Homo sapiens: one gene and its partner. The protein of the gene in region 1 interacts with the protein of each later gene in a biochemical or structural test. Each region holds a gene or a part of one and is shown in the gene's direction. Other genes may lie near its edges.

The links. Proteins that work in one complex are often made in the same cells at the same time.
Region 2: the proteins of MAGI1 (region 1) and MTNR1A interact in a test that uses a peptide from one of them, tested with the Homo sapiens proteins (one large-scale study listed by IntAct).

Annotation. Positions count from the first base shown.
Region 1 is NC_000003.12:65,425,197-65,430,448, reverse strand, and holds part of MAGI1 (membrane-associated guanylate kinase, WW and PDZ domain-containing protein 1), read left to right. Parts: intron 1-308; coding exon 309-929; intron 930-5,252. UniProt on the Homo sapiens protein: Plays a role in coupling actin fibers to cell junctions in endothelial cells, via its interaction with AMOTL2 and CDH5. May regulate acid-induced ASIC3 currents by modulating its expression at the cell surface.
Region 2 is NC_000004.12:186,535,862-186,539,443, reverse strand, and holds part of MTNR1A (melatonin receptor type 1A), read left to right. Parts: intron 1-732; exon of another isoform or gene 733-1,199; intron 1,200-3,582.

The DNA of each region.
Region 1 (5,252 bases):
ACTAAAACTGTAGATCCCCATTTAAATAAATGAATTCTAAACTTGGATTTCTGCAGTGAGATTTTTTTTTAGGAGAAAGCTCCAATGTTCTGTGAGTGATTATTACATTCTCATTAGCAGGGAAGACACTAGGTGCTGAAAGAACACTTTATTAGCTGTTAAAATCAGTAATAGAAGCACTTTATACCCTATAGTATCACACCCACATGCAGTTTCAGTTCAGCTTTATGTTAGTGGGAGATATTATAATACTGATGACAATTTTCTGGGTGCTGTTTTCTTAACCCCCACACTCTTGCCTTCTACAGGGGATGTGATTGTAAGTGTGAATGACACCTGTGTTTTGGGACACACACATGCTCAAGTTGTGAAGATCTTCCAGTCCATCCCCATTGGTGCCAGCGTGGACCTTGAACTCTGCCGAGGTTATCCATTGCCTTTTGATCCAGATGACCCCAATACAAGTTTAGTGACCTCGGTAGCCATTTTGGATAAAGAACCAATTATTGTGAATGGGCAAGAGACCTATGATTCACCAGCTAGCCACAGTAGTAAAACAGGCAAAGTCAATGGCATGAAGGATGCCAGGCCAAGCAGCCCAGCGGACGTGGCTTCAAATAGTTCTCATGGTTATCCTAATGACACTGTTTCTTTGGCTTCCTCCATAGCCACTCAGCCAGAACTCATAACTGTTCATATTGTCAAAGGGCCAATGGGCTTTGGTTTTACTATCGCAGACAGTCCTGGTGGGGGTGGCCAAAGAGTGAAACAGATTGTTGACAGCCCAAGGTGCCGAGGCCTGAAAGAAGGGGATCTCATAGTGGAAGTTAATAAGAAGAACGTGCAGGCCCTAACTCACAACCAAGTGGTGGATATGCTGGTTGAGTGTCCTAAGGGAAGTGAGGTCACATTGTTGGTGCAACGAGGAGGTAAGTAGGGTTGTTTTGTTCTTTGAATTTTTTTTTTATCCCAAATTCATTGCTTAACTTACTCATCTTCAGATGACCACTGGGGGCTTTTTAAATTTATTTAAATGTTTCAAAATGCCTACTGATTTCTCCAAATACTAACCTCTTTAGCATAAAAATTGTGGTTTATACATTATGACAGACATATGCAGTTAGAATGATACCTTAAAACAGAAATCAGATTTTGCCTTTTTAAAATGTTAAGATTTAAAAACCTAAGTTGGGTGTGGTGGTACCCACCTGTAGTCCTGGCTGCTTGAGAGGCTGAGGCAGGAAGATCACTTGAGCCCAGGCATTTGAGTCCAGACTGGGCAACATATTGAGACCCCATTCTCTAAAAAGTTTTTTTATATATATATAAAAAATAATAACCTTTATCCTTTAAATCTCCTGAACTTGGCCTGCATAGCCTGCAAAATGTGGCTATGGTCACTCCAAACTTGTCTCATGTTCCTCTCCTCCATCTGATGGTGCTTTAGCCACACTGGCTGCTTTTATGGAGCTCCTTTAATGCTTCAAGCCTTTTCTTGCCTCAGGCCCTTTGTATTTACTGTCCGTTCTGCCTGGAATGGTCCTTTCCCAGCTCTTCCCAGCTGGCTCAGTCCCATTCAGGTCTCCTTATGAGAGAGGGCTTCTCCCATCACTTTATCTAAAGTAGCTCCCAACACTTCCATATAATCTTTATCACAGTTTTTCATAACCTTGATCATCATCACCTTTTTAGCACAAGACGTTATTTCATGCTTTTATTTATTTTTCATTATTTGTCTTTCATTAGAATATAAAGCTCCATAAAGCCAGGGCCCATGTGTGCATGTGGACAGCTGTTATCCCCAGCATTTAACACAACACCTGACTCCTTTTAGGTATTTATGAATGAATAGGTATTAAGTGAATAGGTATGTGATTATTTCTATTTGGCAGAAACAAGAGGTCTGCTAATCATATTAAACACTTCCCTCCACATGCTCGCGTTTAGTAGTTTAGGATCTCAGAGATCTGGGTTATTCTAAATCTCGAGGCATTAAGCTTCCTCCTTTCTCCTTGAGTCCGTATCCCACCCTCTGCCTCACCAGAAAACACAGGACGTCACACTGAGCAATACTTTCCACCATATTGAAGTGTCTTGCTCCTGGAATATATACTTATATGTGATTAGTCGTGACTGATAGTTTTACACAGTGGGCCTGAGAATGGCTGTTTCCCTGATCCTTGCTACCATGATTTGTTTCATGAACAACATATTCAGGCCTTTTGAAAAGAGATCAAGAACCAGACTTTGACTTCCTTTTGGTTTGTTGCAACAGGAGAGCTCATTTGTGTCACAGCAGCCAGATTCTCATGTTTTCATGAACCTGTGTGTTCTGCGATCAGAATGGCTGGGGTCATTTGAAGGAAACCCAAAATACAGAGTAGCTGTCTATGTGAATTGAAATGCTCAATGAGCCTGGCTTAGGCAGTTATAAAAGGCATTGTGCAAATTTTATTTTTTTTAAAATGTCATTTCCACCAACTAATTTTCAAGTCTCTTCTTGTACCTAGATCACTTGACTGCTCAGAGAACTGGTTTTAAACAGTAGCCAAGATGTATGTAGTAGGAAATGACTTGGGTATAAGAACGATTATGACAATAATGATGATGGTGATGATGAAACCTGGCACTTATAGAAGAATCAGTGATACACAAAGCACTTTCATACCTGCACGTGCCTCTCCACTGATATTTGTCACTTCCCTGTGAGGTAGGAAGGTGCCACCCCACAGTAGTTCTGAGCTGTTCACCCTGGCTCTGTGGTTTCCAGTCCAATGTTCTGCCCTACTTAACTGAATAACACTGATTTTTGTATAGTTGCTTAATACTGAGGCTGACAGCCTGGAAACTTTCAAATAATTCTTGGTACATCAGGTGCACCTCTGATTCAGCCACTGCTCATTTGACAGACACAAACCACCTTGTTCTCCTAACTCATCTATCCTCTTTCTCATTTCTGTTATTGATGTGGTTTATTATCCCATTAGATTCACTTCTAAGGAGACCAAACATAAAGTTTCATTATAGCCAACTAACTTACACATGTATTAGAACCATATTGTAATGAATTCGCCTAAGCCAGCAAACAACTGATTATAGAAACGTACTCCTTGATTTTATTTTTTATTTTTATTTTTGAGACAGGGTCTCACTTTGTCACCCAGGCTGGAGTGCAGTGGTGCCATCTCAGCTCACTGCAGCCTCAACCTCCTAGTTTCAAGCGATCTTCCTGCCTTAGCCCCCCAAGTAGCTGAGACTATAGGTGCATGCCACCACTCCCGGCTGATTTTTGTATTTTCAGTAGAAATGATTTCTCCATGTTACCCATGCTGGTCTCGAACTCCCGCGCTCAAGGGATCCACCTGCCTCGGCCTCCCGAAGTGCTAGGATTACAGGCATGAGCCACCACACCTGACTATACTCCTTGATTTTAAATATGTTTGCATTCTCTCTTCTTAATTCCCAATGCCATCTTCTCATTAATGGTGTTACATTTTATAACATTTATATGAAAAATCCGGAATATATTGCCATATTCATCAACATCTACATGGTTTATTTCAGAACATGAGTAATTTAAAATCACTGTGACATCAGCAGTCTTTAAAATACACCATATGTCTTGTGTATGATTTATGTATAGGATAGAAAGTTTGTACATCTGCAGTTGGCAGGCTAGCACTAGATACTATTAATCTTTCTGGAAGGCATATAAATATATCTGTTTCTGCCATACATTAGTTGCTTGAATCAGGGCTGACATTTAATCATCTCTTCTGTATAGTGGGGATGTAATGAGAAGGCTTGATGAAGGTGCTTCAAGACAACAGCTAGGTTCAATGAGAAAGTAAATGCCCACTTTACCGATTCTTTCTAATGAATCTAGTTTATTTTGTAACTGCTAGTAAGATGACTGATAAACTCATCTACACTGTTCCATGAGTCTCAGGAATTCCTGTCGTGAGGTTGTGGCTTTCTATGCTTTAAAGAACGGGCCATTTTTACTTTGGGACAGAACTGGCTGCTATGTTTGTAGCACCCATTTTAATTCCTCATCTCTAGAGCTCGTTTTTGACATTTGTTCTTGTCAAGATCTAATACATTTCATTTTTAGTAGTTTTAGTCCATCCCCCTTCCCTCATCTGGAAATCGAGCTGAAGGTTGAAATATCATTTGTAAATGTCCAGGGTCAGACAGTTTCCTGAGTCAGGCTTAGAGCTGCTGTGCAGTGTTCATCCATACTCCCAAGTAGCCGGGACCAGTCCTGATTTGCTTACAAATCTCCTCTTCATCAACATCTCCCTGCTTGCCAGTCGATCACTCAGGTTTTTAAAGGGCAGTTCTTCTCTGTGTCTGGCTCCCCTCTTCCAATTGTGTGTCCTTACTCCTTCTCCCTCTGCTGTCCAGTCAGGAAAGTGCTTTTTACCCTTCTATTTTGAACATAGCATCTGCATTCAGAAATCCTGTCACCTGACATCAGTGTGCATCTAGAGACTTCTTTGAAGTGTTTGGAAAATCAAACTAGTTTGTGGATTTTTATTTTTAATTTGTAAAAGCTATCGAACTTGTCCCATAAGGATTTTTTACTTTTTTTAAAAAAGGCTCATGTAGATAGCGTAACTACCTGTGCCCCTCTGTGTCAAATATTTTGGATATTCGGCAAATTCACACCTATCAGTAGGTGTGACACTCTTTAAAATGTAATTTCATGTTGAGTCACAACACTCCGTTTCAAGAAAAGATTTGGCAGCACTGTATGCAAGTGAAGATCCTATGTTTTACTTTTGAGAGAAGGCATGTATTAAAAAGAAAACTGAACTTGGGATACCAGGAGCTGACCTTGAGTACAAACTCTGCCCGTAAGCTTCTGCATATGCTTCAGAAGGGTACTACTTCTACCCTGACACTTATTTTTTTAATCTAAAAGATGAATGTTTTGAGCTAGAGAATCTTTCAGGCACTCCATTCTGGCTCAAATTTTATGCAAGGGATGACCTTATTGTTGTATAGAGGAAAGACCACAGGACTGTGGAGACAGAGGATGCAAGTTTAAATCCTGGCTTCTGCTCTACTTGCATTGTGACTTTAGGCAAGTCACTTGCCTTCTCTGAGCTTAGTTAGACTTCTGAAAAAAATGGGCATGATGTACATAGATTAAATAAGGTAGCATTTGTGCCAATTCCTGACGTAGTAGTCATCACATGATAAAGCAATAGTGGCAATTGGGTGGGGAAGCATTAATATTTTATTTT
Region 2 (3,582 bases), on another chromosome or scaffold:
TTGGATCAGATGGATCAGGTGGCTGAGCAGCCTTCAGGGCCTTGTTCTGGGCTCCAGTCAACACTGACAGCTTTTTGAGTCACTCAGGAAATGGGTTGGTTTAATACGTCCAACCCTTTGTATGGTTGGTATATTTTGTTTTTCATCTTAGTGGTTGGAGGGTGATGCAATGACATTGTTTTCACCTTGGAAGGTGAATACAGGTGGCCTTTTTTTTTTTTTTTTTTTTTAATGGAGTCTTGCTCTGTTGCCAGGCTGGAGTGCAGTGGCACGATCTCAGCTCACTGCAACCTTCGCCTTCTGGGTTCAAGCGATTCTCCTGCCTCAGCCTCCCTAGTAGCTGGGACTACAGGTGCGCACCACCACGCCCAGCTAATTTTTGTATTTTTAGTAGAGATGGGGTTTCACCATGTTGGCCAGGATGGTCTTGATCTCGTGACCTCGTGATCCCCCGCCTCGGCCTCCCAAAGTGCTGGGATTACAGGCGTGAGCTGCCACACCCAGCCCAGGTGGTCTTTTAAGGAATTCTTTTGCCCCTGCAGGCCGTGACTACCAGTGTCCCTTAACTACTGGAAATAGGATTTCTAATACTTTAAAGCTAGTCCTATTACAGAATCGACTGCAGGTAACCCAAAACCAATACAGAGAAACCATCCTGAAGGTTCTCCTTGGTCCACTTCCAGAACCAAATTCTGTATCAGTCTGGGTTCAATCAATCCAAGAAGTAAAATTGCTAGAGCAGTTGTGTGAGCTGATTAAATAGCGTATTTGAGGTTTTCGCTTCTGTGTCTGGTGCTGCTGTCTAAAGTCCACGGATTTAAGAAGGAAAGCTGGATGTTAGGAGGGGACGCAGGGGAAGCTAGAACCTGGGAGGAGGGACTGGAGCTCTGGAGGATGGTCGAATCTCAAGCCAGGAGGAGGTGAGCAGGAGCTGGAGAAGCTGTGAGCACACTGCCGTCACCCACCCCCTGCAGGGCAGCAGATGAGACTCGGAGTGCCGAGCTTGTGGTGGCGTCTGGCACTTGACACAGACATACTGAGGGCAGAGAGCAAGCTACTGCTGCACTTCCGCCTTCAAAATCTCACGCAATTGCCTCTTGTGGGGAACACTAACCCGGAGCGGTGCAAGGAAAAGTCTTTTCAGCTTCGCGAAGTTGACACAATATAAACCCACTGTGCATCGATTAACCCTCGGCCAGGTACTGTTCAAGGTGGAGGGAGAAGATATCTAAGACAGGCAGTGTCCTCACCGAGGTGATAGCTGGGGCTGTGGGAGATGGGGAGAAGTAGAGACATAATCGCGATAAACAGAAAAGCAACGTCGTGCTGCTGTGTCATTCCCAGAAGGGACTCACAGGACTAGTTCTGAGGAAGGTACTCCCAGCAAGCTGACATTTTAGTTGTCTGTTACCTTATTTTATTCATATCTGTGCCATATTTCACTTCCACTTTAAGGTTTTATTCCTGGGAACAAATATTGACTGTGCATTTTATAGTTGGTGCCTTTAATCACCACAAGGCTGATCGCTGTTCGTCTTGTTGCCAGCATACTGACTTAGGTGTTTTCCTCCCCCATCTTCTCTTTAGAATGTTCTAGTTCAAATACGCTTCTTCAGAATTGTGCCTGGAGAGGCTGTAAGCCAGGACGTAGCCACAGGGCCCAGTTTCTGAGTCTCGTATCTGTAGGAGCACAGGAGCTTTCTCAGGGAAATAACATTGAACAACACTCACCAGTTCATAGCATTGGTATAATCCTGACTCTTTCACTAAGTAGTCGTACGACTTCATCCAATTTAACTCTATATTTTTGTTTTCTCATCTTTAAAAAGTAGGAATTATCCAGGGAGATCATTAACCCATCTCTCAATTTTAACATCCTATGATTCTATGATTCTGCCACAGTAAGGATTGGAACTATATTCAACAGAGAAGAAATTCTTACCCATGAACAGACATTATTTTACATTTCAGAATGCATTATTAAGCTTGTTGCATACAGTCCTGGATATCTGTAAAAATGGGTAGATTGTCCATATGTCTGGAGTTACATAGATTTGAGAATGGAATAGATGAACTTATAATGTGTATAATTATAATTAGATGATTTAATGACTCTTATCTGGTGAAGTTCATAAAAGAAAAAAGGAAATTCCCTTTTTCCTTCTCCGCCCAGACACCACACACCCCCCAGGCACACATGAACACTGGTGCTAAAGCTTTATGTGAGCTACCTGACAGCCGCACCTGTGGGGAGTCTGTGGCTTAATTAATTTTCACCAAGATTTGTAAAATGGGATTAATTCAAAGAATCAATGATCTAATTAATGTAATTGCTTGAATTGTAATGCAACATAATTACTATAAAATAAATGAAGCAGGGTATTCGAGCCATGAAAGAAATTTATGACATCATTTGTGATTTCATTTTTAAGCTCTTTTAAAAATAAATCCATATTAGGCCAGTTTGTCATCATGACACTCTGGGAACAAATGTGCTGTTACAATGACAGTTTGATTTGGAACAGAATTTCACATATTATAGATGCTTTTAAAGCATTAAACATTTTGAGCTAAATAATTTATTAAAATACACCTCTTAGGAATTTAAATGTTTCAACGCTAATTGAAAGTGATCTGTGGGAAAATAAATTTGCCTTTGTAACTTTAATTTGGATGAATACAACCAATTTTTAAAGTATTTGCTTTTATGACAATTTATCTGAAATTCCTAAATAAATGGCACAAATTTTGCCTTTCTCTCATCTTGACTGCTATGGGCTGTCTCATTTCAAATATTGGGAAGTGACAGTTTAATGAACTCATTGAGTGTATGAGCAAAAGTCACTGTATTTATTGGGTGTGGTCTAGGACGCAAATATGAGGAAATGTACTCACGAGGGCCACCATCTGGAGACGCAGGGAAGCCTGGCCTACAGGTCAATAGAATAGAAGGCGAAATCTTCTGTCCGTCCACCTGGGGCTCCCTCTGTCCCTGTCCAGCGCACCCCTTTCCTCACAGCTTCTGGTCTGTGCGTGCTCTGGTGCTGCTGCTTACTCTAGTGTAATTTTCTTTTTCTTTTTTTTCTTTTTTTTTTTTGATACGGAGTTTTGCTCTTGTCACCCAGGCTGGAGTGCAATGGCGCGATCTCTGCTCACTGCAACCTCTGCCTCCCAGGTTCAAGCAATTCTCCTGGCTCAGCCTTCCAAGTAGTTGGGATTACAGGTGCCCGCCACCACGCCCAGCGAATTTTTGTATTTTTAGTAGAGACGGGGTGTCACCATGTTGGCCAGGCTGGTCCTGAACTCCTGACTTCAGTTGATCCACCCACCTTGGCCTCCCAAAGTGCTGGGATTACAGGTGTGAGCCACTGCGCCCAACCACTCTAGTGTAATCTTTTTGACTTTTCCTGTCTCTCAATTCCTGTTTCCCCCTGCACCAAATATATGCATTTAATATGTAAACTGAATTGAATTTATTATAATTTAATCTGAGTAAAAAGCAGTATAAAGTGCTTTAAGACCCTTCAAAGGAGGAAGCTCTTACCACTAGGTGGGCAAATGAGCAAAGGCTTCTGGCATTTC